7 linked regions of the Homo sapiens genome follow. The protein of the gene in region 4 purifies or fractionates together with the protein of the main gene of each other region. This does not show direct contact. Each region holds a gene or a part of one and is shown on either strand. Other genes may lie near its edges. The genes, in order: AKAP1, PAPOLA, HMGCL, MTHFD1L, MTARC2, PAPOLB and ANGEL1.

Region 1 (3,500 bases), on a different chromosome or scaffold from region 4:
AGAGAAGAGAGGGCGCAGGCACTCATGTGCACTTGGCCTTCTTAGCCTGAGGTCTGGGGAGTTTCTTGTTTGGGGTAGGTTTGGGGGAAAGTGGCAAGAAGTCCGGATCACCCAGTAGCACGCTCACCCAGGATGTCATCGGCAGAGAAGGCAGTGCCAGTGAAGGCAATGGGGGAGCGTAGATATTGGTGAGGTTCAGCTCTTTGAACTTCTTCCCAATCAAGTTCAGCGCTTTGTCTACATGATGTTGAGAGCCTAAATAGCGGATGGGGGCAGGACATACAATCACTGTAAGAGGAAACTCACACCCACACTCACAAAAACACAGCCACAGACCCCACTCCACTGGACTTTGCATAGAGTTCAAGTGCATCTTTGAGGTAACAAAACACTTAAGCTCTGCTTTAGGAAGAAAGGCATCTAAGCCTTTCAAATGATACCTCTGCCATTATGATCCATGCTTTCAATGCAACAGAAGAGGCAGGCAGCTGTGAAAATGCCAAGGGGGAATTGCACACAGGGCACTTCTGCTTTGAGAGAAGCCTTTATGGGGTGGTGGGCACTATGAACCCAGGACCCAGGCCCCGCCCAACCAAGCACCCACACTTCTCCTGGCCAAAGATCAGAGTAGGGAGGGACCTGAGTCTCCCGCAGGCACCTGAAATGGGGAAAAGGCTGCAGGGAAGATACCTAATGCTCCCTTCCCTGGGATGAGAAGCAGGGTTTCCTATTCCAAAAAGATAGCAATTGAAACTCAGATGCTATTCACTTCTATTTAATATTTCAGGTAAGAGGCAATACAAGCAGCAGATGTTACTGACCTTCTATGTGGCAGATCTGGACGCTCTGGGTGTAAGGCAGGGTTGAAATGTAGATCTTGGCACCAGATGTTTGCTTCAGAAAACTCACATAGCGCCCCTGCTTGCCAATTAGCCGACCGACTAAGTGCTTCCAGAAAGACAAAAAGAGATGAGAGGGTTAAAGGGAAACCAATTCCCTGGACACCCAAAGACCTACTTCTGTTTTACACAAGATCATGCTCAAACATATTAGCTGTTACCATGTCAGCATTTATTTTCCAGGACTATTCTAAGCACTTACATTTACTCATAGTACCTGTGAAACACAGATAACTTTATCACCATTCTGTATATGGGGAAACAAGCCCAGAGAGGCTAAGTAACTACCTTAAGGTCACACAGCTGCTAACCAGGAAGTCGAACCAGGCAGTCTGGCTCCAGGACCAAGCAGTTCCCATTTCATCCCAACAATGTGGCCCAGACCCGGAAAGCTGCAAAGGCAGCAGCATCTTCTCCTCTAAAAGCCATGCTGAGAAGTTTCACCAGCACACAGTTTCTCGATTTCTCGTGCCCCTCTCCCTCAAGTCTACTCAGATCCAAAGATAAAGGGGCTCGATTTGAAAATGAAGGTCTAAGAACCCTGGGCTCCCGCTGCCAAGTGACAGCAGGCTGAAGCCTGCAGAGCAGGAGGCATGCAGAAGTGCCCAGTGCGCCAGAGTTCAAGGCAGATAGAAGCAGCCAAACTTAGCCCTTACGTAAGATGGGCTCCCACACAACCGCCAACGACCCCCTCCCGGAGGAGCTACTGGGGACATGGTCCATCCTCAGGCACAGCCTTTCTCTTCATGCCCTTTGTAACCACTGAAGGAAAAGCAGGCAGGACGGATAACAGGGCCCCCCAGGGAGGAAACCACCAAGAGACCTCGCAACCCAGGGTCAAAACAGCCACTCTGACCCAGAGTTCAGACCAAGCCAAGTCTCCACCTGAGCACAGAGCCCAGGGCCCTGGGAGAATGCGGTCTGACAAATTATTTCTGAGCCCCAGAGATAAACATCAAGATCAAGCTAATATGTTGTAAGTTCTAATAGCAAGAAGCTCGAAACCACTTAAGCACTCAGGAATGGGGGACTGATGAAGTAAACTGACATCCACACAGTGAATAATGCAGTTACAGTTACATTTTCAAAGAATAACACACGAAAATTAAATTGTTAAATATTTAAAGTATTAATTAAAGCGACATAATCTCAGTTTTGTTTAAAAACCACAGGGTGCAAGATGAGAAGGAAATAAAAGTCTTTCACAGTCACTCTCAAGGGTAGGATTAGAGCTGATTTTTATTTTCTGCATGTATTTCTATACTTTTCAAGTTCTCTAAAATATGGATTTATGCTTTGCTCAATTATAAAATACACTTGGAGCACTTGAGCAGAGCTCAGTGAAGGGATTCTGGCTGGCCCCCACGGCCTTGGTGTTTTTTTTCCAAATAGATCTGAGCCCCAGAATATGCAAGAACCACCCCCAAGGGAGACACACAGGCCTGCGAGTTTGAGAAGTACAAGAATAAGATGCTCCTGGAGGCAGCTGGAGGAATTCCATGTTGCAGGAAGCTCTCTGAGCCTTGGCAAAGTGTAGCGTGTCCTTTCCCTGCGGCCTTTGGCTGACCCAGGGCTCCTTCTGGTTTACTGTCCCTCTCCCAGCCCCCTCCCTCCCTGAGGTCTAATGGCCCTGGCCCCAGGGAGCTTTGGGCTTACCACAGAACCAGCCTGGGGGACTCCGCCCCTACCTTTGGCACCTCGATCTCCCAGATGATGAGGTCGACCTTCTTAGGGTTGGAGCCTGCCTGGGCATTTTGGAAGCTCTCAGTCTTCTTGAGACTGCAACAGCTATCCACGGAATCCATGCTGTTCCTGTCAGAACCTGCAGGGGAAGAAGCAGCAGGCACGCACACACACAGACCCCACTCAGAGCAGCCAGTAACCAAGAACTTCCCAAACTCACATTCCCAGGAGGCCCTGCCCCACACCCGCTCCTCAAGCTTGGCAGGTGACTGTCAACTTACAGTCTAGAAGGCTCAGAACAACCCCAATGAAAGGAGAACTGGGGGTGTCGATACACCTAATTTTAGCCTGTCACTTACAGTCCCACTTGCTTAATTGGCAGCCGCACCCAGCCACAGCTGCTGGAGCAGAGACACAAGTGGTGAACTTGGAAGAGACAGACTGCGCCCAGGGAAGGGGAGCCCAGAGGGCGGGGGAGGAGACACGCTTGAGGTCCACATGGTCCTGAGAGCCAGACCGATGGACCACAAACACCTTGACACCCTTCCAACTATCCTACCCCCTCAGACCAAGGGTCAGTCTCCTGTCCCCAGGGCCCAGTCCCAGGGTCATAGGTACTGGCCTTCAGCCCAGCAGAGCTAGACAAAGTCCTCACTGGCCTGCCTGAGGGCCCCATTCTTATACCTAGCGGGGACCCGCTCGTTCCTCTGCCATATGTGGACTAAAAAAGGAGAGTCTCCTTTCCCTTTGCTTAGGCCTGATTCATGCAACTCTGAACACTCTTCTGGCTCAAATACTCCCTTGGTCAAAAGACTGAGCCAAAGCTCATGCCCAAGAAAACCCAATGGGAACAGACTCTGCTCCCGACCTGGGCTGTTCCACTCTCACTCAAGAGCGTGCCAAAGGGACCGTCACAAA
Region 2 (3,500 bases), on a different chromosome or scaffold from region 4:
TTAATTTTAGAGATGGTGTCTTGCTCTGTTGCCCAGGCTGATCTAAACTCTTGAGCTCAGGCGATCCTCCCTTATAGCTCAGATTACAGGCATGGACCATGACACCCAGTTTTTTTTTTAACTATTTGTATATTATGTCCATAACACATTCATAGAAACACAATCAAGCAGAATTGAGACCGTAAAATTTTACCTTATATTTTATAAACTTGTTTCAACATGTTAAATTATTTAAAGTAAATATTAATAATCTTGCAAAAGTTGAAAGTCAACTAATTCTACCGTTCACCATTAAATTAGAATAGTTATAGCAAGGAGGCTAAAATAACCCCCTATAATGGCAGCAAGGGGCACCAAACAAATCTTCAAATTAAAACAATAATTAGCTTTTGGTTATTAGCTAAAAACTCAGTTTATGCTAATTAAAACACTATTTTGTGAAATAAACAAAGATTTTTAAAATAGCTTTTTAGTGCAATACTCTGTGGCTAGAAATAGTAAATCCAAAGCAAATATTGCTTTATTTATTGCTCCAGGAAGCTGCTAGGGCGGCCAAGTTATTAAACATCAACTCAATTTTCCTAAAAGCACTTTTTTCTCATCTACCTTTTGTCAGAAAGTACAGTATTTATGAGGTTGAAATGTACCAAATTCCTAAATATGCATAAAAGACAATGCTAAATAAAATCAGAAATACAAAGATGCTTAAGGTAGTCTCTGTTTTCAATGACAATCTCAAATTTAGTCTGGGATTCAGATCCTTAAACAACAAGTGCAAAGTAGAAGTTTGGGAAAAAAACCATTAAAGAAACAAAGATAAAATCATGACTATGCCAGAAGGTGTACACAGTAAATGATCGGAAAGGAGAGGCGTAATCTAGGCAGACGACTAACACACAAAAGGACAGAACATCATATTTCCATTGGTGTTTTCCTTAAATAGTTAATGTTTAAGTACTTTGCATCTCAATTTAATTTTTTTTAATAGAGTCAGGATCTCACTATGTTGCCCAGGCTGGTGTCGAACGCCTGGGCTCAAGCAATCCTCCCACCTTGACCTCCCAAAGTGCTGGGATTACGGGCATGAGCCACCACAGCCCGCCTGTGTCTCAATTTATACAAAACTCATCAGGCACTACTGATTAATCCCCACCTAGTGATATTAGGCATTTGGAACAAGTTGTGGCCCATGATATTAACAGAGTCAACTGCCCCAATTTATAGCTACTACTTAACAGAAAACACTTTATTATTTGCATGATAGAGTTAAAACTGAAAGCCAAACTTGCTAAATATTCTTCTTTGAAACCAATCAGATAAACTACAGTTAACTTATTTAAAGTAACAATTCATCACAGTAGAATTTGCTGTTTAAAGGTCTTAACCTTAATGTGCTCATTCAAAGGACATGAACAGAAAAGATACAAGGGATCTCTCTAAAGTATCTCAATGTGCATTAAATATTAATTATTAGCCAAAATAATACAATCTCCTTTTTCACAAGGTATACGGCATGATAGTAGCTTACAGGCAAGATTATCGCCAAAATAATCTATTTGCTAAGAAATTAAAACGATGGTTAACTGGCCCACCGTAAGGTGTTCTGTGTAAGTGGTACTAAAAATATTTAGATCCCACTATATTCTTAAAAACGTACTGCAGGTGGGCCATCCAGCCAATATTTAGTAAAGCAGCAGCAGAGGCTCAAAGATGATGTTAATAGTTTGTTTATGCTCAAGGGGAATAAAGTATGTATGATAAAGCCCAAGGCCAAACTGAAAATTCAAGGTTGCTTATGCAGAGAAAGGGTACTTGCTGTTCAATTACTACAATGGCCAAGTTATTTTTCCTCACTTCCAAAGGGTACTTCCAACTGCCCCTTTGCGCACAAGCGCACGCGCGCGTGTGTGTTGTGTCCCTCTCTCTCATATGGCTAGGAGAAACTTAAAAAAAAAAAAAAAAGCCAAATTGTACACTGCTACATCAACTTGCCAAGTACAACTTGAAAATGAAAGAAATGTAAATTTAATAAAGTATGAAACAGGACCTGAAAAAGTACGAAAGAGTGTGAAAATGTATCAGAAAATAGTCAAGATTATAGTAAGTCATAGTATTACAGACACTAATTTCAGGAAATGTAATTTAAATGTTTCTAATGATCAAAATGACAAACACTATTCTTGATCAACCTCAAAATTATAAAAACTGCCGTAAAATCCAAGAATCCAATTTCTGGACAAAATATAGAGGGAATAAAAATTTGAAAAATAATTCTGTAACAAAAGAGGAAGAAAGAAATCTAACAGAATGCCTTTATTTTTTCTTTCCCAAATCCTTAGGTTTCCACAAATGAGATTGCTATACAGTTCAGCAGGCCTACATACAATCCAAAGATTAAAAAAAAAAAAAAAAAAAAGCAACTCCCACAAAAGGTACTGGCCACAACAAAGCGGCGTCTAAGTGGCAAATCTGTGCATGGCTTTAAATAAGAATATATATGCAAATAAAGCCACTGAAAGTAGTCGTGTGCCACGTTAACAGAATTCTTCAGTCAATGACAGACCACACATATAACAGTGGTCCCATAACAGCATAATACCGTATTTTTACTATTCCTTTTGTGTTTACATACATTTAGATACACAAATGCTTCCTAATGTGTTACAAGTGCCTACAGTATTCGGTACAGTAACATGCTGCCACAGGTTTATAGCCTAGGAGCAACAGGCCATATCATTGGTGCATAGGCCTAGGTGCATAGCAGGCTATACCATTTAGGTTTGTGTTAAGTACACTGTTCCCACAATAAAATCTGAAAAATAACACATTTTTACAGAATATATCCAATCATTAAGCAATGCACAAGATCTCAGGTTCTATAGTATGTTACATTCTGTGTATACTACAAGTATACACTATATGTTACTTTTGTTTATATACTTTTGTATACATTTTTATTATGTAAATACTTTGAGATTTACATGTTATACACACAAAAAAAATTGAGCTTGAAAATTAATTCTACTTGAAACTATACAGAGATTCCAACTGGCCAGGCATGGTGGCATGAGCCACCTGTAATCTCGGCAATTTGGGAGGCCAAGGTGGGATTGCTTGAGCCCGGGAGTTTGAGAGCAGCCTGGGCAACGTGGCAAAACCCTGTCACAGTAAAAAATACAAAAATTGGCCACGTATGGTGGTGCGTGCCTGTAGTCCCAGATACTTGGGAGGCTGAGGTGGGAGGATCCCTTGAGCCTGGGAGGTCAAGCCTGCAGTGACCCATGATCACACCACTGCATTCCAGCCTGGGCAACAGTGAGTTCCTGTCTCAAAAATAAATAAAGACTCCAACTGAGCTAACCACACATGGTTCCCTACAGTGTCCACAGGAGATGGTATAGTGTACTGGAATGACAATGCAACACAGAATCCAGAGCTGATTTAAGCCCCAATCTACAATTTAGTACCTTTATGACCTTGGTCAGGTATTCTTTTGAGCC
Region 3 (3,500 bases), on a different chromosome or scaffold from region 4:
TGATGCTCCCACTTATTCTCCAACCACTGCTGAGCAAGAAAAAGGTAAGAGAGATGCTTAGAAAGACACAGATCTGGGAGTTGGGCCAATGTTACTGGAGCACCTGCTTCCCCATTCATCCACCTGCCCGTCAGTGACTGAGTGCCCACTGTGGCTAGGCCCCAAGCTGGGAGAGTGGAGCACCCCAGGGACTGGGAGAGATGTGGGCTTTGCCCTCATGGAGTGCACGGTCTAGTGGGGTGGGGCAGGGAGGGAATTTAACAAGCAGCTAAGTGCTACATTTAGAGGATGTCCCGACACCATGGGGTCCCAGAGAAGGGCACTAACTCCAGCTGAAGGACTGGAGCAGCTTCTCAGAGGAACTGACTCCCACAAGAAGACCTGAAGGATGAGCAGGAGTTATCCCCGAGAAGCATGATGTGGAGGAAGTGTTCTTTATTTTTTGGAGACAGAGTCTTACTCTTTCACCCATGCTGGTGTGCAGTGGCATGATTTTGGCTCACTTCAGCTTGGACCTCCCAGGCTCAGGTGATCTTCCCACCTTAGCCTCCTGAGTAGCTGGGACTACAGGCACATGCAACCACACCTGGCTTTTTTTTTGTAGAGCTGGGGTTTCACCATGTTGCCCAGGCCCAAGCCAGTCACAAACTCCTGGGCTGAAGCAACCTGCCCACCTTGGCCTCCCAAGGAAGGTTGTTCTGAGTCTAGAGAGAGCACGTGCAAAGGCCCAGAGGCAAGAGTGGAGGCATGTGACAAACAGAAAGAAGTTCCAGTTGGGCTGGAGTGTACCATGAAGAGGAAGCAGGGGCCAGAAGGGAACTTGAACGGTACGGCTACAGAAAAGAGCCGGGACCAAATCATGCAGGGTTTGTAAACCTCATTAAAAAGTCTGCACTTGATTAGTCACTGAAAGCTTTTTAACCAGGAGGGATGTGATCAGATGTGCACTTTTGTGGGGTTTTTTTGGTTTTTGTTTTTGAGACAGAGTCTCACTCTGTCACCTAGGCTGGAGTGCAGTGGCGTGATCTTGGCTCACTGCAACCTCTGCCTCCTGGGTTCAAGTGATTCTCCCGCCTCAGCCTCCTGAGTAGCTGGGATTACAGGTGCATGCCACTACGCCCGGCTAATTTTTGTATTTTTAGTAGAGATGGGGTTTCCCCATGTTGGCCAGGCTGGTTTCAAACTCCTTACCTCAGGTGATCTGCCCGCCTCGGCCTCCCAAAGTGCTGGGATTACAGGCATGAGCCACCATGTTCAGCCCAGATGTGCACTTTTCAACGATCATTCTGGCTGCAATGTTTTTTTTTTTTTTTTTTTTTTTTTGAGATGGAGTTTTGCTCTGTCACCCAGGCCGGAGTACAGTGGTGTGATCTCGGCTCACCACAACCTCCGCCTCCCAGATTCAAGTGATTCTCCTGCCTCAGCCTCCCAAGTAGATGGAATTACAGCTAATTTTTGTATTTTTAGTAAAGACGGGGTTTCTATCCACTACCACGCCCAGCTAATTTTTGTATTTTTAGTAGAGATGGGGTTTCACCATGTCGGCCAGGCTGGTCTTGAACTCTTGACCTCAGGTGATCCACCTGCCTTGTCCTCCCAAAGTGCTGGGATTACAGGTGTGAGCCACCATGCCCGGCCTCTGGCTGCAATTTGCACAGCAGTGTGACCTTACAGTAGAGTATTCGCCCTTCCTGGGCCTCGGTTTTGTAATTTATAAAGTGAGGATAACCTACTCCCTGCTGGGCTATTGTGAGGTTTCAATTATTATAGATAATACACACACAATGCCTGGAACCACTGATATTAGAGATGTGATGTTGGAAACATAGAAGCCTAGGTAATTCTCCAGGGATGTGTGAAGAGCTAGTGATAAAGCCAGGACTCAACTGACCTCCACAAACCCGTTAGTGTCCTGTCCTGCTAGATTCCTTTAGCATGATAGCAGTGGTGCTATCATGGCTCACTGCAGCCTCAAACTCCTGGTCTCAAGCCATCCTCTGCCTCAGTCTCCCAAGTTGCTAGGACTACAGGCGCATGCTATCATGGCTAGCTGGTAAACTGACCCAAAATTCAGGTTTGAGAGAAAGTACTTCCTAGGATTTCTTCTGACCACACTTATTTGGGAAAAGATGTCTAGGTGTGGAGCTCAGGCTGCCCCCACCCAGGATAAGAAGTTTGTGGCAGGAGGACCACTTGAGTCAGAGTCTAGCCCCATTCCAGAACGGTACAGAGGAAAGGATACCAATGTGCTCTGACTCACCCCCGCACAGAAATATTGGCTGACTGCGCTGCCTTCAGGATTGCGTCAAACCTCTGAAAACTCTCCTCTATGGAACAATTGATGTTCTTCTTGGTGAAGAGCTCTGAGGCAGCTCCAAAGATGACTACTTCCTTGGCTCCAGCAGCAACCTGCCAACATCCAGGTGAACTCCTTTCAGCACTTTTCTCTTTTTTTGTTTGAGATGGAGTCTTGCTTTGTTGCCCAGGCTGGAGTGCAGTGGCATGATCTCGGCTCACTGCAACCTCCACCTCCTGGGTTCAAGCGATTCTCCTGCCTCAGCCTCCTGAGTAGCTGGGATTACAGGAGCCCACCACCACGCCCGGCTAATTTTTGTATTTTTAGTAGAGACAGCGTTTCACCATGTTGGTCAGGCTGGTTTCGAACTCCTGACCTTGTGATCCACCCACCTCAGCCTCCCAAAGTGCTGAGATTACAGGTGTCAGCCATCATGCCCGGCCAGCACTTTTCTCTTTAAAGAACACTGACACAGAGTAGCAAAAAATTTCTCTTAAGGTAAATTTTATGTTATGTGAATGTTATGGGTTGAATTGTGTCCTCCTAAAAATATATGTTGAAGGATTAAAACCCAGCACCTCAGAATGTGACCTTATTTGGAAACAGCGTCATTGCAGATATCATTAGTTAAGATGAAGCCATACTGGAATAGGGTGGGCCCCTAATCCCATACGACTGGTGACCTTAAAAAAAGATGGCCAGCCGGGCGCAGTGGCTCACGCTTGTAATCACAGCACTTTGGGAGGCCGAGGCGGGCAGATCATGAGGTCAGGAGATCGAGACCATCCTGGCTAACACAGTGAAACCCCATCTCTACTAAAAATACAAAAAATTAGCCGGTCGTGGTGGCACACGCCTGTAGTCCCAGCTACTCGGGAGGCTGAGGTGGGAGAATCACTTGAACCTGGGAGGTGGAGCTTGCAGTGAGCCGAGATCATGCCACTGTACTCCAGCCTGGGCGACAGAGCAAGACTCTGTCTAAAAAAAACAAAAACAAAAGATGGCCAAGTGAAGACACAGAGACACAGAAAAGGTGGCCCTGGGAAAACGGAGGCAAAGACTGGAGAGATGCATCTACAAGCCAGGCAATGCCAAGGACTGCTGGCCACCACCAGACCCCAGCAGAGAGGCATAGGACAGATTCTCCCAGAGGCCTCAGAAGGAACCAATCCTGCTGACACCTTGATTTGGGACTTCTGGCCTC
Region 4 (3,500 bases):
AAGCAAATAAAGTGGGAAGAGGGATGTGAAGACAGGGGATTAGGGGGGTGAAGACAGGGGGCTCACTGTTGGACAAGAAGTGTCGAGACAGGATAAATTCCAGGTCCTGGAATTTAAAGAAGGAATTAGGTAAGGAAGGAAGGGGAGGAAAGTTCCAGAAACACTGGAGACCCACTTTGATAACACTATCAAAGCCTCCTAGAGAGAGAGACAGAGAGCTTCTCAGTCCTCTGAGAATCCACAACATAGTCTGCACCTGTACCTCCTAAATGCCCAGCAGCAGCCACCTTCACCTCCCACCTCTGAGGGAGGTGCCAGCCTGGGGTGAGCAGGCCTAGGTAAAAGTGGTAGAAGGCCTGGCATGGTGGCATGCACCTGTAGTCCCAGCACTTTGAGAGGCCAAGGCGGTAGGACTGCTTGAGACCAGGAGTTTGAGACCAGCCTGGGTAACATAACGAGATCCCATCTCTATAAACAATTTAGCTGGGCGTGATGGCACGTGACTGTAGTCCCAGATACTTGGGAGGCTGAAGCTGGAGGACCGCTTGAGCCCATGAGTTTGAGGCTGTAGTAAGCTATGACTGCACCACTGCACTCCAGCCTGGGTGGCAGAGCAAGACTCAATTTCTTTTTAAAAAAAGAAAAAAAAAAAAAGTCCAGGAGCGGTGGCTCACGCCTGTAATCCCAGCACTTTGGGAAGCTGAGGCGGGTGGATCACAAGGTCAGGAGTTCAAGACCACCGTGGCCAATATGGTGAAACCCCGTCTCTACCAGAAATACAAAAATTAGCTGGGTGTGGTGGCAGGCGCCTATAATCTGAGCTACTCGGGAGAATCTCTTGAACCTGGGAGGCAGAGGTTGCAGTGAGCCGAGATTGTGCCACCGCACTCCAGCCTGGGCAACACAGCAAGACTCCGTCTCAAAAAAAAAAAAAAGTGTTAGGAGCTCAGCTCTTTATGGAACCTTCTGGGATGAGTGACTGCAGAGGCTACCTTCGCCACCACCCTATGATATGTTCTCAGCAGCACATGAGCACTGGGAGCTGGCTTTTCCCCCTCTCACAATAGACCAAAGGCGCAGCCACAGGAGCCCCCAGGCTTCAGTGCTAAGACCACCTTTACATTTTGTTTTCAGTCTCCGACAGGGTCTTGCACTGCACCTAACAAAAATGCGGGGTGAAGAAGTTCCAGCCAATGCCATCAACGGTACACTGCCAAGAGCAGAAAGGCATCGGGAAGCTTTCCCCAGTTTTCAGAGAGACACAGCTGACAAATGGAACCAGAGGCACTGCAGTTCCCAGGCGGGGCTTTAGGGGAGAGAGCTGCTCAGATTCACAACCAGGACCAGTCTTTCTACTGCCAGCTGGGCCGGAACAGATGGACTGGGTGCAGGCAACTGTCTATAACCTGGGAACATTTCAGTTAGTTTTGTTTGGAAACACTTGGGATAAAGCTACTTCATTCCCAGGGAATTAATTGTATTATTGTGCTGAATAAATGTGACCATATGGGAAAGTTTACAAATCACCTTATAAATAAGCACTAAAATCCATCCATCCAATAATGGGTGACTGAGGCCCATATACCGCACTCTTTCCAGCCTGTCGTGACTGTTAATTTGGCTATGCTGGGTTCTTATTTTTGTCTGGGTCCAGGAAAGCACCGGAGTGTGGGACCCAAGCGGTTCATGGTATAAGGATCACTGGAGAGTTTGGTAAAAGTAAAGGTTCCAGGCCAGGTGCAGTGGCTCACACCTATAATCCCAGTACTTCGGGAGGCCAAGGTGAAATGGATCACTTGAGGTCAGGAGTTTGAGACCATCCTGGCCAACATGGTGAAACCCCATCTCTAGTAAAAATACAAAAATTAGCCAGGCATGGTGGTGCACACCTGTAATCCCAGAGCTACTCAGGAGGCTGAGGCAGGAGAATCACTTGAACCCAGGAGGCAGAGGCTGCAGTGAGCCAAAATCATGCCACTGCACTCCAGCTGGGTGACAGAGCGAGACTCTGTCTCAAAAAAAATAACAGTTCCAGCCCTAGAAAGTCTGATTCAACGTGTCTCAGTGGAGCCCAGAAATGTGCATTTTTAACAGAGTCCAGGTAATTCTGAGACACTAAGTGGAAATACGGCCCAGGATTGGTACTGGGCATTTCATTTACTAGCGTGGACAAGTCTCTAAGAGTCTCAGATTCCTCATCTGTAAAACAGGTATACTACAGTGGCTCTTTCCCCTTTTTCTTATAAATGTACGTTTGTTTTTTTCTGTGCCCCAAAGCTACCCTTAAACACTAAAAACATTCTTACTAACAGCAATAATTTTCTCAGAAACATTCATAGTCTTGATCCATTCATAGTTGATGAAAGGAACACTTCTTTTTATTTTTTTGAGACGGAGTCTCACTTTGTTTCCAGGCTGGAGGGCAGTGGCACGATCTCGGCTCACTGCAACCTCCATCTCCCAGGTTCAAGCGATTCTCCTGCCTCAGTCTCCTGAGTAGCTGGGACTACTGGTGCATGCCACCACGTCCCACTAATTTTTGTATTTTTAGTAGAGACAGGATTTCACCAAGTTGGCCAGGGTGGTCTCGATCTCTTGACCTCGTGATCCGCCCACCTAGGCCTCCCAAAGTGCTGGAATTACAGGGGTGAGCCACCTCGCCGGGCTGAAAGGAACACTTCTATAGGTAAGTCGGCAATCGTCAAAAAGTAATTAGACTTTTAAAATAGTTGGGGATGGGGGCTGGGCGCAGTGGCTCATGCCTGTAATCCCAGCACTTTGGGAGGCTGAGGTGAGAGGATCACTTGAGCTCAGGAGTTCAAGGCCAGCCTGGGCAAGATAGCAAGACCTGGTCTCTACCAAAAAAAAAAAAAAAGTTGGGGGGTGGATGTGGATAGAAAAAAAAATACAGGCATACATCATTTTTTGTGCTTTGCTTTACTGCAATTTACAGATACTGTGTTTTTCTACAAATTGAAAGTTTGTGGCAACCTGTGTTTTAAGTCTATGGGAGTCATTTTTCCAATGGCATCTGCTCAATTTGTGTCACATTTTGATAATTCTTACAATATTTCAAACTTTTTCATTTTTAGTATGTTTGTTCTGGTGATGTGTGATTGACGATCTTTGATGTTACTGTTGTAATTGTGTTGGCCAAACCGTGGCCATGATGGTTCATGATGGTGTGTGTTCTCACTGCTTCACTGGACTGGCTGTTCCCCCTTCTCTCTCCCTCTCCTCTGGCTTCCCTATTCCCTGAGAAACAACAATATTGAAATTAGGACAATTAGTAACTACAGTGGCCTCTAAGTGTTCAAGTGAAGAGTTGCAGGTCTCTCACTTTAAATAAAAACCGAGAAATAATTAAACTTAGTGAGGAGGGTGTATTGAAAGCCAAGATAGGTCAAAAGCTAGGCCTCTTGAGCCAAACAGTTAGCCAAGCTGTGAATGCAAAGGAAAAGCTATTGAAGAAATTTAAAAGTGCTACTCCCGTGGATACA
Region 5 (3,500 bases), on a different chromosome or scaffold from region 4:
GGAAAATGATTGTTAGGTCCCAAGACGGGGTGGGTGGAGAGTTCTGAGGAAGTAGAAAGCTGGAGGGAAGCTGTTGGGAGGTGGAAGAGGATTTTCTGAGTGTGCCCTGGTTTGTTTCTCTGCAGGTTTTGGCTGGTGATTAAGGAAGATGGACACATGGTCACTGCCCGACAGGAGCCTCGCCTCGTGCTCATCTCCATCATTTATGAGAATAACTGCCTGATCTTCAGGGCTCCAGACATGGACCAGCTGGTTTTGCCTAGCAAGCAGCCTTCCTCAAACAAACTCCACAACTGCAGGTGTTCCGCTTGGGGGCATCCACAGAACTGCAACAGGCTTGGTTTCTCTTCAGGCTCCTCCTTGCATTCTGTCTTGCTATAGTTTCTACAGTAGAGGATGACATTGGTAAAGGAAACATTTAAGAGAAGTGCAGTTTGAGTTGGGATTGGGCATGAGTGGATGATGCAGGGTATTGTTTTCAGGGTACCTAGGATTTGTTTTAATCAGGTATGGTTAGACACGCAGACATAGAAATGACTGTCCTGAAAAAAGAAGATGTTATACCAACAGATTCTCTAGAAACTGGAGGCACGCTACGCCACGCAAGGCCAAGTGGGGGAGTACCAGGGTGGGTCAGGAGGCAGAGGGAGCAGGGGGAACATGTGGGCAAGGGCTTTTATTGTGGTTTCCACAGGAAAGGAGAAGCAAGGCAGGGGCGGCAGGCTTAGGGCTGGCTAGTTTGAACAATTTCAGCAGGCTCTGGGTCACAGGTTGTCTGGTACTTGGCTCTAGGGTTGACTAGGGCATGGGACTAGTGGCCCGGCATGTAAGCACCAAATAAAGGAGGTGACTGGGAGTGCAGACTCTGGATGGGTTGGTGTTCCTATTACAGGCACACTTGCAGGTCATCAGTCTATTATTTCTAGGAATTGGTCAGCCCTGGAAGAAGCAGTTTCTTCAGTGTCAACAAGGCTCCAAGATGTCAAAGCGTAAAACATGCAGAAAATTAAAAGCAGGATTACTACAAGTATAAAGGTGGTACAATGTGCTCATCTTTAGGGCTTTTCTCCTTTCATTCAAATCTTCATTCAGAATTGTCAACTCTCCAACCAGGCAGACAAGGGAGTTAGTGGAGACTTTAGCAGCTGTATCTCAGGGCTGGGTGAGAAGGATGCTGGAGCTTCCAGAGCTTTTCAAGTTGACTCTGCGGCCTCTGAAGTGTGTGGTTGAGATGAAGACATATTCCTTGGGTGTAAGGGATTTCCACTTCTGGCCAAAGACACACCTCAGGCCTTGGCTTCCTTTTGGCCTATGGGACTTCTGTTGGGTTGTCAAGTTCCGTGGTTTGCTGGGGTCTTGTCCTTCCACATTAAGAAGACTTAGATGCTTGTCATGGGATGAACTGGATCCCTTGTCACCAACTGAGCTTGTTAAGTGTGTGGAAGTTGGTGTTGTCCCAGGGCTCAGAGGGGAGCCTCAGATTACTCCGTGAACTCTCATCTTACGCTTTTTCAAGCAAAGCGTCTAAGCTGAAATCCACAACTCATGGTTCCCAATTTTCAAAAGTCTGAAGCAATAATTCACTGAATTCAGTATTTCAGGTAATTATCTTAGCAAGCCCATGAGGGGGTCATTAATTCCACTTTACAAACGAGGAAACCACGTCTTAGATCACTGCCACGAAAACACAGAGCTGGGATTTGAACCCACTTCCCTCCTAAGGCTTTTGCCTTTAACGTGTTTGTGTAGGGAGAAGAAAAGCTTTTCCATAAATGACAGGTTTTGAGCCCATCAGTTCATTGAAGAGGAAGTGTGTAGCCATCTCGGCTTAATTGGAAGACATGTGAAGGTGATGGGTAAATACGTAGCTGACATGTGTCACATGAGTAATATAGGTGTTGCCCTGTAGACTCACTGTGTTGCCAACAGTGAGCAAGTTTTTCCCCCAAGGCTCTTTACCAGCTAAATAGGCAGAAATCTAGGGGGACACTCACCTTCCTGGATGGAAAGAGGGAAAGAGGAAGACCTTGCAGGTGAGTTGCCTGGGTCTGAAAAAGACAGCAATTGCAGCCTATTCTTTTTTATTTATTTATTTTTTGAGACGGAGTTTTGCTCTTGTTGCCCAGCCTGGAGTGCAATGGCACGATCTTGGCTCACTGCAACCTCCACCTCCCAGGTTCAAGCGATTCTCCTGCCCCAGCCTCCTGAGTAGCTGGGATTAGAGGCATGTGCCATGACGCCCAGCTAATTTTGTATTTTTAGTAGAAATGGGGTTTCACCATGTTGGCCAGGCTGGTTTCGAACTCCTGACCTCAGGTGATCCACCTGCCTTGGCCTCCCAGACTTCTGGGATTGCAGGCATGAGCCACCGTGCTCAGCCTGAAGCCTCTTCTTATGTAATTCTGTTCCATGCATGAATTGTAGATCTGGATGAGGTGGGAATAGAGAGCCTGGAACCCTGGCAGTTTGGTGAAAATGATTGAGAGCTGTGCATTTGGATTGATGCAGAGGTGTAGTCAGCGCACTGCCCTCTCTAGCTGGTTAGACATGCTGTAACTAGTTCAGCCTGTATTTATAAGCTATTTTTAATGGATTCGTTGCCAAGGGAACTGCTAAAAACTGAAGAAATAACATAGATAGTGTGTTTAGCTAGTGCCAGCTGCTGTGACAAAATACCATAGTCTGGGTGGCTTAAACAACTGACATTTATTTCTCATAGTTTGGGAGGATGGGAAGTCTAAGATCGAGGTGCTGGTAGATTGGTGAGGTCCCTTTTCAGGGCTGTAGATGGCCACTTCTCGTTATGTCCTCACATGACCTTCCCTGGTGCCTGCATGAAGAGAGAAAGCAATCTTGTGTTTCTTCCTCTTATAAGGGTGCCAATCCCAGCATGAGGGCTCCACCTCATCTAACCCTAATTACCTCCCATAGGCCCCACATTGGGGGTGAGGGTGTCAACAAAGGAATTCTGGGGAGACACAAACATTTAGCCCCTAACAGATGGTAAGCGACAGAGTGATTACCACAGCCAGCCCACCAGAGCCCAGAATCAAATAACATAAACCAACAACCTCAAGTTAGTAAAAAGAAAAGTCCCTTCACAGACATTTGGACAAGGCTGAAGTGTTATGAATTTTATATTATTCTACACTTATTTTATTTTATTATTATTATTATTTTTGAGATGGAGTCTCGCTCTGTCACCCGGGCTGGAGTGCAGTGGCGCGATCTCAACTCGCTGTAACCTCTGCCTCCTGGGTTCAAGTGATTCTCCTGCCTCAGCCTCCTGAGTAGCTGGGACTACAGGCGCACGCCACCACGCCCAGCTAATTTTTGTATTTTTAGCAGAGACGGGATTTCACCATGTTGGCTACCATGGTCTCGATCTCCTGACCTTGTGATCCACCCGCCTCGGCTTCCCAAAGTGCAGGGATTACAGGCATGAGCCACCACGCCCGGCCACTTATTTTTTTTAAACTTTCACTGTTAGTGTTTTGAAT
Region 6 (4,174 bases), on a different chromosome or scaffold from region 4:
AAAAATAAAATTCACCAATTTGAAAAATCTAAAATTAGTTCTACTTTCTAATAAAAAATATAAAGTGCCTCATCAGTATAAGGAATTCTGATACCAGTTTGTATTGCATATTTTCCCAACAATGCATCAAGCATAAATCCAGTCCAGATGTCAGTCACGGGTACAAACATAGCTGAAAGGTTTTTTCATTTTAAGGGCAGTAGTCCTTTGAAATAGTTAATGTAACTGTTGCTGATACATTAATAACAGTACCTCTAGCTGTCACATACTAATGTGGACTTCTGATCAAGACTGGCTCAGTAAAGGAAGTTACCAAATGAGCCTCAATCTATTTCAAGTCATATCTAGTCCCGTACCCCTCATTCTCCTTCCTTAGTATTTGAAGACAACAGGTTCAGTTGGCAGATATTGTTCATGGACCCTTGAGGTTGTTTTTAACCATTCAACCTGTTTTACTGAATTCTTGATAACAGGAATTGGATTTGCAGGGAGAACAGGGATACCGGAAAGATCTATACTGATGTTCCCTGAGAGGCCAATAGAGAAGATGCTGTCTGAATTTTTCTAATGGAGTTGTACTTGTCTTTGTATTGAGTTTCTCCTCTTCCGTTTTGGTTTTCTTGGTCCTTTCTTCTTTATGAGGCAAGAATATCCTCTAGACTCCAACTATAGGATTAGATATGTTTGTTGCTGAGTTTCCTGAAGGTCTGGATGGCTTATGAGACATGTTGAAGAAACAACTCTGGCGACCATGGCCTTTGGTGATGGAGAAATGGCAGGCTGAGAGACAGCGTGAGGAATACTTTCGTTTAATGCAACCCCTGAACTTTCATTGGTATTCACCTGTTGCAAGGAAAATTCAGTAGCCTGTATGTTAGCCACAGATGCTGTCATTACAGCCAAGGCAGGACTGTTTCTACCCTGAGAACTGCTAATCAATGGGCCTGTCTTCATAGTGCTAGTAGATGAAGGCACAGACATGCTGTTTTCACAGCCTGCAGACAAGTCAAAGCTGCTGTCGTTCAAATCTGTCAATCTTCTACCTTCTGTTGAGTGTGCTTTCTTGTCCTGAAGCACATGATGAGGCAGCAGCTGGTGAAGTTCCTTTCTTCTTAAATGCATTGCAGTAATTTTCATACCCATCTCAAACATCTTACTATTCACTGCTTGCCTATAAACAGTATCTGTGAAAGACTGGATATCATAGGTGAGATCAATGCTGAGAATTTCAGAATTATCTGGCTTTTTTAGCCCTAACCCAATCACCCACATTGTACGAAATTCTTCCATATCAGGATTTTCTTTGGGTGCTGGAAATGACTGTGGATTCACATGTGCCAGTGTAATAAATTCATTCTTCTCCAAGCTCCCAACCAGGATTCGGATCTTTGATTCCACCAAGCCCACCCATTCTAAATGTTGTTTTTCTGTTGATGCACTTGCCAGAAGTACAATATAATGCTTGTACTTTTGAAAGAAGCTTGGAGCTTCAAAGAGTTTGGACCACTCTGCCTTACTTAGCAAAATCTCGTGTGTGATAGCAAGCCCCTGTTTAAACTCCTCAATCATGACCATCCTGGTTGAAATAGACACGTTGTATGTGGAGTTCTGCTGTGGGTATGCTGGTGTGATGATAGGCATAAGATGGTACCTATCACTGGGATTTACTCTTGGGTCCCATACAGGCAAATTAAGATTCCGTTCTTCAGGCTCCTTCAGTAACACTGGGTTTGGCCATTCCCATTCTGAAAATACCAAGAAGAATTTCCGTACAAGAGTTGACGCTACTGCATTTGGATAAAGCTGACAAGTTCTTGCTACTAGCATGGCCCAGGAAACACCTCCGAGGAAACCTAATATATTGGAATAGATATTGTGGCACTTGGCCCACAGTTTGATGGCTCTCAGAGTCAGCCTGAAGTTGTCAATGTTTGGCACTAGATGTAAAATTTCATCGGTTACCCGGCAACCATTAAGGCTTCTTATGCATCTAATGTCTAAATTTTTAAGTAGACTGTCATCTCTTAAGTCCAAATCTTCTGGAATAGTCTGTAGTGCTAATCTTGCAAATAAAATATCAATCTCTATCCCATCAAAACACAGTTTGATAACTGGCACAAATGCCTCCTCGACAGCCCTTAAATCTTTCACTTCCTCCTGTAGTTTCAGTTTAGCATAGAATGAGGTGAAAAAGTCGCTTCGATCCACATGACTTGGTGCAACGCACAAGGCGTCAATATCTGCGCCTTTCGTATGTACTCCTAATCTGTAAGAGCCAAACGTAAAAATCTTTCCTCCAACGTTTTCAATTACAGACTGGGGAAGACTCTTGCTTTCACTGATTTCGCGTATCCATTCCTTTACCAGATTATTTAATTTTTCCAAAACTAAAATCCTGCGCTGCAGTTCCTCTTCCTCTTCGAAGACCCCGAAGGGCCTGAGGGTTTCTATTAGCCTCTGGGTGAGGAGGCAGTCCGTCTCCTTGGGGACCGCTAGACTGATAGGCGAGGAGACGCCGTAGCGATTCGGCGGCGGCGCCGGCTGCGGTGGTCCCTGGGTTGTCACCGGAAACGGCATCATCTTTCAGCGCCCGCCCCGCCAGGGCACGTCCCCCACCACCGCGACCTTCGCGGCCGCCGCCCGGGTCATGATCCGCTGAGGCGGAAGGGCAGGGCTTCTAGCTGCCCTGGTCCGACCCCACTCCCACTCCCGCTGCGCGCCCGCCGCTTCAGGAGCTTCTCCTCCTTCCCCTCAGCCCCAACATGGCGCCAGACCCCTCAGCGGCTGCGTTCCAGAACCTACCGTACACGCGCGGGCGCCTGCGCACCCGCCGCCAGCGCGAGGGCTCACGGGAGCCACAGCGTTCTGGGCTGGGGCTCCTACCGCTGCGCGGGGGGCTATACATGGGGGTGGGCAGGATTCACGTTGTTGATGACCGGCCAAACTCAACCCTTTATTGCCACTATTTTACATATTTGCCCAACTTTACCCATCTAATTCTTTGCTCTCCAAGTCCCTTGACATCGCAGATGTGCATCCTTTTTGGGGGCACCCTCAGCACTCTTCACCCTAGCGTGCACCCTTTGGAAGTCCAAAGACCCCTTCGTGGTGGGAACCCGCGGTGGAAAGCAGCTTCTGTCTTGTTTCTTGGGCCGTTGCTGGACATTGGTTTAGCTGGGGCAGCATTTCGAGGTCGACATTTGTGTTCTGGCCATGCTTTAAGGGCGCGATACTGCTGTCCTCTGGTTCCCGTTGAGAATTCCGCAGCTAGGTGAACTACTGCTCGTCTGTCTTTTCTTATGGCAGCTATAAAAGTGTCTGTCCCTAGTGCCCTGTGATCCCACCACTGTGTGTCCAGGCATAGATTTCTCTTTAATAATCTTACCCAGGCTGGGCGCAGTGGCTCACGCCTGTAATCCCAGCACTATGGGAGGCCGAGGCGGGCAGATCACCTGAGGTCAGGAGTTGGAGACCAGCCTCAACATGGAGAAACCCCGTCACTACTAAAAATACAAAATTAGCCGGGCGTGGTGGTGCATGCCTGTAATCCCAGCTACTCGGGAGGCTGAGGCAGGAGAATTGCTTGAACCTGAGAGGCAGAGGTTGCGGTGAGCCAAGATCACACCATTGCACTCCAGCCTGGGCAACAAGAGTGAAACTCTGTCTCAAAAAAAAAAATAAAATTAAAAATAAAAATAAAAAATAAAAAATATAATCTTACCCAGGATACACTATGATTCCCGAATCAGAAGTCATGCTTTTTATGATCTCCAGAAGCTTCTTGGGCACTTCCTGGGAATATGTTCTCCCACTTGTCTCCTGATTCTCTTCATCTAGACACGTTGTCAACCTTCTCACTCTGTCCTCCATGTCTCTTAAGCCGTGTGTCTTTCTGGGTGATGCCAGATTACCTCCAAGTCCTCTCTTCAGTTGTATTTAGTCTGCTGTTTAAGCATCATTGAAATATCCACTTAAATACTTATATTTCACTATTTTGTTCTTTTCCAAGCTTCTCTGCCTTTTAGATGGCATTCTGTTCTTTCATGTTTTTCCCCCTACCTTTTATTTCTTTAAACGTGTTAAACATACTTATTTAGTACTCTATAACTAATTATTCTAATTCCGAATGCTCTTGAGAAACTGTATAGTTTGTTGTTATCCAAGAACTCAGAGT
Region 7 (4,088 bases), on a different chromosome or scaffold from region 4:
TTAGTGACATATGCTTTGTTCAACCAGTCAGTAAAGGCTTATGTGGTGGCTAGTAGTGCTAGCGAATGCAGATTCGGCCGCTTGCAAAACCAACGAGCAAGGTCGTGGTATGGTAGAAGGAGACTGACTTTATTATAAACCAAAGCTAGCAGTGGGGAAAAACGATCCAGGCTTTTGCTTTAATGGAGCTGCTTCACATTTCCAAGCAAAATGCGAGGCTTTAAGAAGTTTTGGCATGGAGGGTATGCAAGGGGTGAGGCAGTGCAGGTCTTCATGACGAGTTCTGATGACTTGTCTTGAGTTACTGCCCATCTGGTGAATGGGCTGGCATCATCTCGGGCTGGGCTGAGTTATAAATTAACTGTAGCCTTGAATCAATCTCCTGGTGGAGATTTCCACAGATGCCTATATTGTTTCAAGATTTAGTCTCTGGAACTTTTAAGCGAACATACAATTAGATATGCTAACAGTGTGTATGGGGGGTGCTGGGGTGTCGGGGGGTGCCTAGTGGTTAACTGAACAAAAATAAAGAAATAGAAGTATATAACAAGAATATAACTTCCAAGCTGGGTACTTGGTTACAATAGGTGCTTGGATTGTATTAGAGATACCTCAAAGTGAGCAAACAACCAGCCAGAACTGGTCCCTGGCCTTGTGGAAGTTTCTCTCTTCTGTCTCTCTCCTCTCTCCCTTCTCTCTCTCCTCTCTTTGTCCTCTCTCCTTTCTTTCTTGACTTCCTTACCAATGGGAAACCCTGTTTTTCTAGATTAGGGAAAAGAAGGCCCGTTTAGAAAGTAGGGAAGGAGACAAAGTCTTACTTCCTGAAGCAAGGTAGGACTCAATTTGTGACCTAGAATCTGAGACAGGGAAGTAGAGGCAGGAAAACGGGGGAAATGGGGGAATAACTCGCTTCCTTTCTGGGTCGAGAAGGGCTAGAAGTCAAGGTTCAGTGGAGCCTTAGAGAAAGTCCAGCTCTTCATTTTACAGGTGAGGAAACTGAGGGGCGGAGAGGCTATAGTGTGGTAACAAGGTGGACACCTAGTCAGCTGCAGAAGTGGGAATAAACTGTGGCCTTTGAATAACACTATGGGGCCTCCAGTGAGGCGCTCAATTTTAATTCGGGACGCCTGGGTGGCAGCCGGGTGCTAGGGGTGGCTAGTTGCCATGGGAACCGGCTCCTCCCACTTCCTGCGTGCGCACCCGTAGACCTGCGCTCCCAATAAAGTTGTTGTTGAAGCGCGGCGGCGGCACCACGTGGGCCGGACCGGGCCGGGGGCGGGGCCGAGCTGAGGGAGGACCTGCTGGCTGCAGTGAGGAGCGGAGGCGGGCGCGGGCGGCCGGCCATGATCGCGTCGTGCTTGTGTTACCTGCTGCTGCCGGCCACGCGCCTCTTCCGCGCCCTCTCAGGTACCGGCCAGGCGTACCGACAGACAGGAGCCCGGCCAGGGCTCGCCTCTGCGGGGCTCCGCGGGCCTGGGGCGGCGTGCGGTTGGCCGGGCCTCACGACTACCGTGCCCCGGGCAGTGCCGAGGTGTAGGGAGGCGGTCCTGAGCCCCTGCCCCGCGGGCCCCTCCTGACCCCACGAGGCCTGGACCTGGCCGACGTCCCTCGTGGGCGGCCCCTCCTCCCGCCTGTTGTCAGATGGCGTCCGGCCGCGGTTAAGGTGGAGAGGAGCTGTGGACGGGCAGGGCCCTTTCCTGGCCCTGGGGGTGCAGAGAAATTGTGGGGTCGGCCAAGTCAGCACCCCGGCGGGTCGGGAAGGGGTAGTAGCTCGGACCTAGGCGAGTGCCCAAATTCTCAGCGGGCGAGGCGGGTCGGCTCTGGGAGGTTTATGGCCGAAGTACTGGACGCACCGATCTTCCCCAGGTTAACTTCACACTCGCCTTTCACTGCCACCTGGCAGCTCTCGCTCACCGGTGTCTTTGGTTGAAAAACGGACGTTCAATCAGAGACACATTTAGATCTCAGCTTTGGAGCATTCCTGCCCCCACTCCCGGCGGTTTAGAGGGAGATGTGCTGGGGTGGGGGCAATGCCCAGTCGATACCTCAAAGAGGGGGTGTTTATTTCGTTATTGTTTCATAATTTGTCTGCATTCTCTATTTCTGGGCTTTGAAATTACGGAGGGTTTTATGCGACCATCAGTTTCTGAGATCCCATGGAACTCGCAGACTTTTTGCCTTTAATTTATGGGACAGGACCAAGAAGTACTTAGGAATGAGGGCTCCAATTGTATATTCTGTGGTTTTCCTTTGTGGAACTTTACACAATTGGTACGCAATGTGTGTGTCATTGATAATATATATTTCATATAGAAATATTTTAAATTTTACTGTGTATCTGCCATTAGAATGCAAACTTCAGGAGCGCAGGGCCACGTCCATTTTGTTCGCTGTATCTCTGGTGTTAACACATTGCTTGGTATACAGTAGGCACTCAGTGAATTCAGGAATGTCTTGTGTGTCCATACTTCTGAGGAATGTGGGAAACTCCACAGAAGTAATTGTTTCCAGAGAACTAAACATATTCTTTTAACTATGTTGCTGTTTTTCCTGGAGCTCTTCTAATGCCTTAGTGATACAGTATACTAGTCCAGAGGTTTCCAGACCAGTAGAGTTCTAGGGATCTCAGAGGAGGGCCCCCCCCGCCCCCCCACCTACACATTACAGTAGTCCCACTTATATTTACTTGGCATATTTGGTTTCCAGATAAGATTTTTAAAAAACAAAAGCATTCTGCTGCTGAAAATCCACCACCACCACCACCAAAAGACATCTACCAAAATTGAAAGCTAGTAACTTCGTGCATATGAACCAAAGAACCTCTGCCATCTGGTATACACAGAGGATATTTCAAGGGGCAGATAATCAGGAAGTCCTTGAGGCTAAAGCTCAACGACCCAGCCCATACATAGGTTTAGAGCAGGGTTTCTCAATCTCAGCACTGTTGACGTTTTGGACCGGATCATTTGGTGTGGGTCTGTCCTGTGAATTGTTGGAAGTTCAGCAGCGTCTCTGTCCTCTAACCACTAGATGCCAGTAGCAATGCTGCAGTTGTGACAACAACAGTGTCTCTGAACGTTGCTAAATGTCTTCCGAGGGCAAAATCACCGTGGTTAAAACCATTGTTTAGAAGGACATAAATATACATAGACCCCAAACAAGATATTTGAACCGTCTTTCAATATTTGAGCCACTTTTAAGGTTTCTTCCCTTTAAAAAAAAATTGCCAATAAAATGAGTCTAGTGATTGAGGGCCAGCATCGTGCATGTTACTCGTCCTGTGCTGTAAATAAATGGTTGAGTGTGTGAGTGTAGGAGTTGTTTGCTCTCACCAAAATACTGTGCTCAGAGTTTGGGGGCTCTAATTTTAGAGTTTTTCCCACTTTCTTTCTTGCCTGTTGGCTGTCATTGGTGGCTGCAGTATCAGAGAGATGTCAGCTGTCTCTTACTGTCGATTGTTGGCACCTTGTAATTTATAGCCTCTGATGTGTTGTGGAATGGGAAAGCAGATAATGAAGTTTGTGAAGATTTTATTACAATAAGTAGCTTTGAGAAAAGGCTTAAGGGCCCTTGCTAAGATGTAAATTGTATAGATTTTTGAGACTGTCTACTTTAGGACTTTTTCTTTTGGAATACATTAATAGATTAGGGAATTTATACAGCTAGAAAAGCTCAGAGATTATCTAGTTCAAACTTGTCTCTATTTTTTTAAATTTAAAATTTATTTTTTTCTTTTCTTTTCTTTTTTTTTTTGAGATGAGGTCTCACTTTGTCTCCCAGGCGGGAGTGCAGAAGGGCAGTCATAGCTCACTGCAGCGTCAACCTGGGCTCAAGCAATCCTCTCATTTCAGCCTCCCAAGTAGCTAGGACCATGGGCATGTGCCACCGTACTTGGCTAATTTTTAATTTTTTGTAGAGATGAAGTTTCGTTATGTTGCCCAGGCTGGTCTCTAACTCCTGGCCTCAAGTGATCCTGCTGCCTCTGTCTCTGCCTCCCAAAGTGCTGGGAGCCACCACGCCTGGCCTCTTGTCCCCATTTTACAGTCAAGAGTAACTTCATCTGACTAGGGGCATTGTTCAAGGTCAGT

What was found.
Region 1: the proteins of MTHFD1L (region 4) and AKAP1 purify together in Homo sapiens (affinity purification with mass spectrometry; one large-scale study listed by BioGRID and IntAct). This does not show direct contact.
Region 2: the proteins of MTHFD1L (region 4) and PAPOLA fractionate together in Homo sapiens (co-fractionation; one large-scale study listed by BioGRID). This does not show direct contact.
Region 3: the proteins of MTHFD1L (region 4) and HMGCL purify together in Homo sapiens (co-immunoprecipitation; one large-scale study listed by IntAct). This does not show direct contact.
Region 5: the proteins of MTHFD1L (region 4) and MTARC2 purify together in Homo sapiens (affinity purification with mass spectrometry; one large-scale study listed by BioGRID and IntAct). This does not show direct contact.
Region 6: the proteins of MTHFD1L (region 4) and PAPOLB fractionate together in Homo sapiens (co-fractionation; one large-scale study listed by BioGRID). This does not show direct contact.
Region 7: the proteins of MTHFD1L (region 4) and ANGEL1 purify together in Homo sapiens (affinity purification with mass spectrometry; one large-scale study listed by BioGRID and IntAct). This does not show direct contact.

What each region holds. Positions count from the first base shown.
Region 1 is NC_000017.11:57,109,246-57,112,745, reverse strand, and holds part of AKAP1 (A-kinase anchor protein 1, mitochondrial precursor), read right to left. Parts: intron 2,722-3,500; coding exon 2,588-2,721; intron 949-2,587; coding exon 822-948; intron 256-821; coding exon 128-255; intron 1-127.
Region 2 is NC_000014.9:96,508,882-96,512,381, reverse strand, and holds part of PAPOLA (poly(A) polymerase alpha), read right to left. Parts: intron 1-3,500. UniProt on the Homo sapiens protein: Polymerase that creates the 3'-poly(A) tail of mRNA's. Also required for the endoribonucleolytic cleavage reaction at some polyadenylation sites.
Region 3 is NC_000001.11:23,811,930-23,815,429, forward strand, and holds part of HMGCL (hydroxymethylglutaryl-CoA lyase, mitochondrial isoform 1 precursor), read right to left. Parts: intron 2,410-3,500; coding exon 2,261-2,409; intron 1-2,260. UniProt on the Homo sapiens protein: Mitochondrial 3-hydroxy-3-methylglutaryl-CoA lyase that catalyzes a cation-dependent cleavage of (S)-3-hydroxy-3-methylglutaryl-CoA into acetyl-CoA and acetoacetate, a key step in ketogenesis. Terminal step in leucine catabolism.
Region 4 is NC_000006.12:150,872,202-150,875,701, reverse strand, and holds part of MTHFD1L (monofunctional C1-tetrahydrofolate synthase, mitochondrial isoform 2 precursor), read right to left. Parts: intron 1-3,500. UniProt on the Homo sapiens protein: May provide the missing metabolic reaction required to link the mitochondria and the cytoplasm in the mammalian model of one-carbon folate metabolism complementing thus the enzymatic activities of MTHFD2.
Region 5 is NC_000001.11:220,754,822-220,758,321, forward strand, and holds part of MTARC2 (mitochondrial amidoxime reducing component 2 isoform a precursor), read left to right. Parts: intron 1-125; coding exon 126-299; intron 300-309; exon of another isoform or gene 310-405; intron 406-3,500. UniProt on the Homo sapiens protein: Catalyzes the reduction of N-oxygenated molecules, acting as a counterpart of cytochrome P450 and flavin-containing monooxygenases in metabolic cycles.
Region 6 is NC_000007.14:4,859,231-4,863,404, forward strand, and holds the start of PAPOLB (poly(A) polymerase beta), read right to left. Parts: upstream 2,801-4,174; 5' UTR 2,581-2,800; coding exon 667-2,580; 3' UTR 1-666.
Region 7 is NC_000014.9:76,810,083-76,814,170, reverse strand, and holds the start of ANGEL1 (protein angel homolog 1), read left to right. Parts: upstream 1-1,288; 5' UTR 1,289-1,343; coding exon 1,344-1,407; intron 1,408-4,088.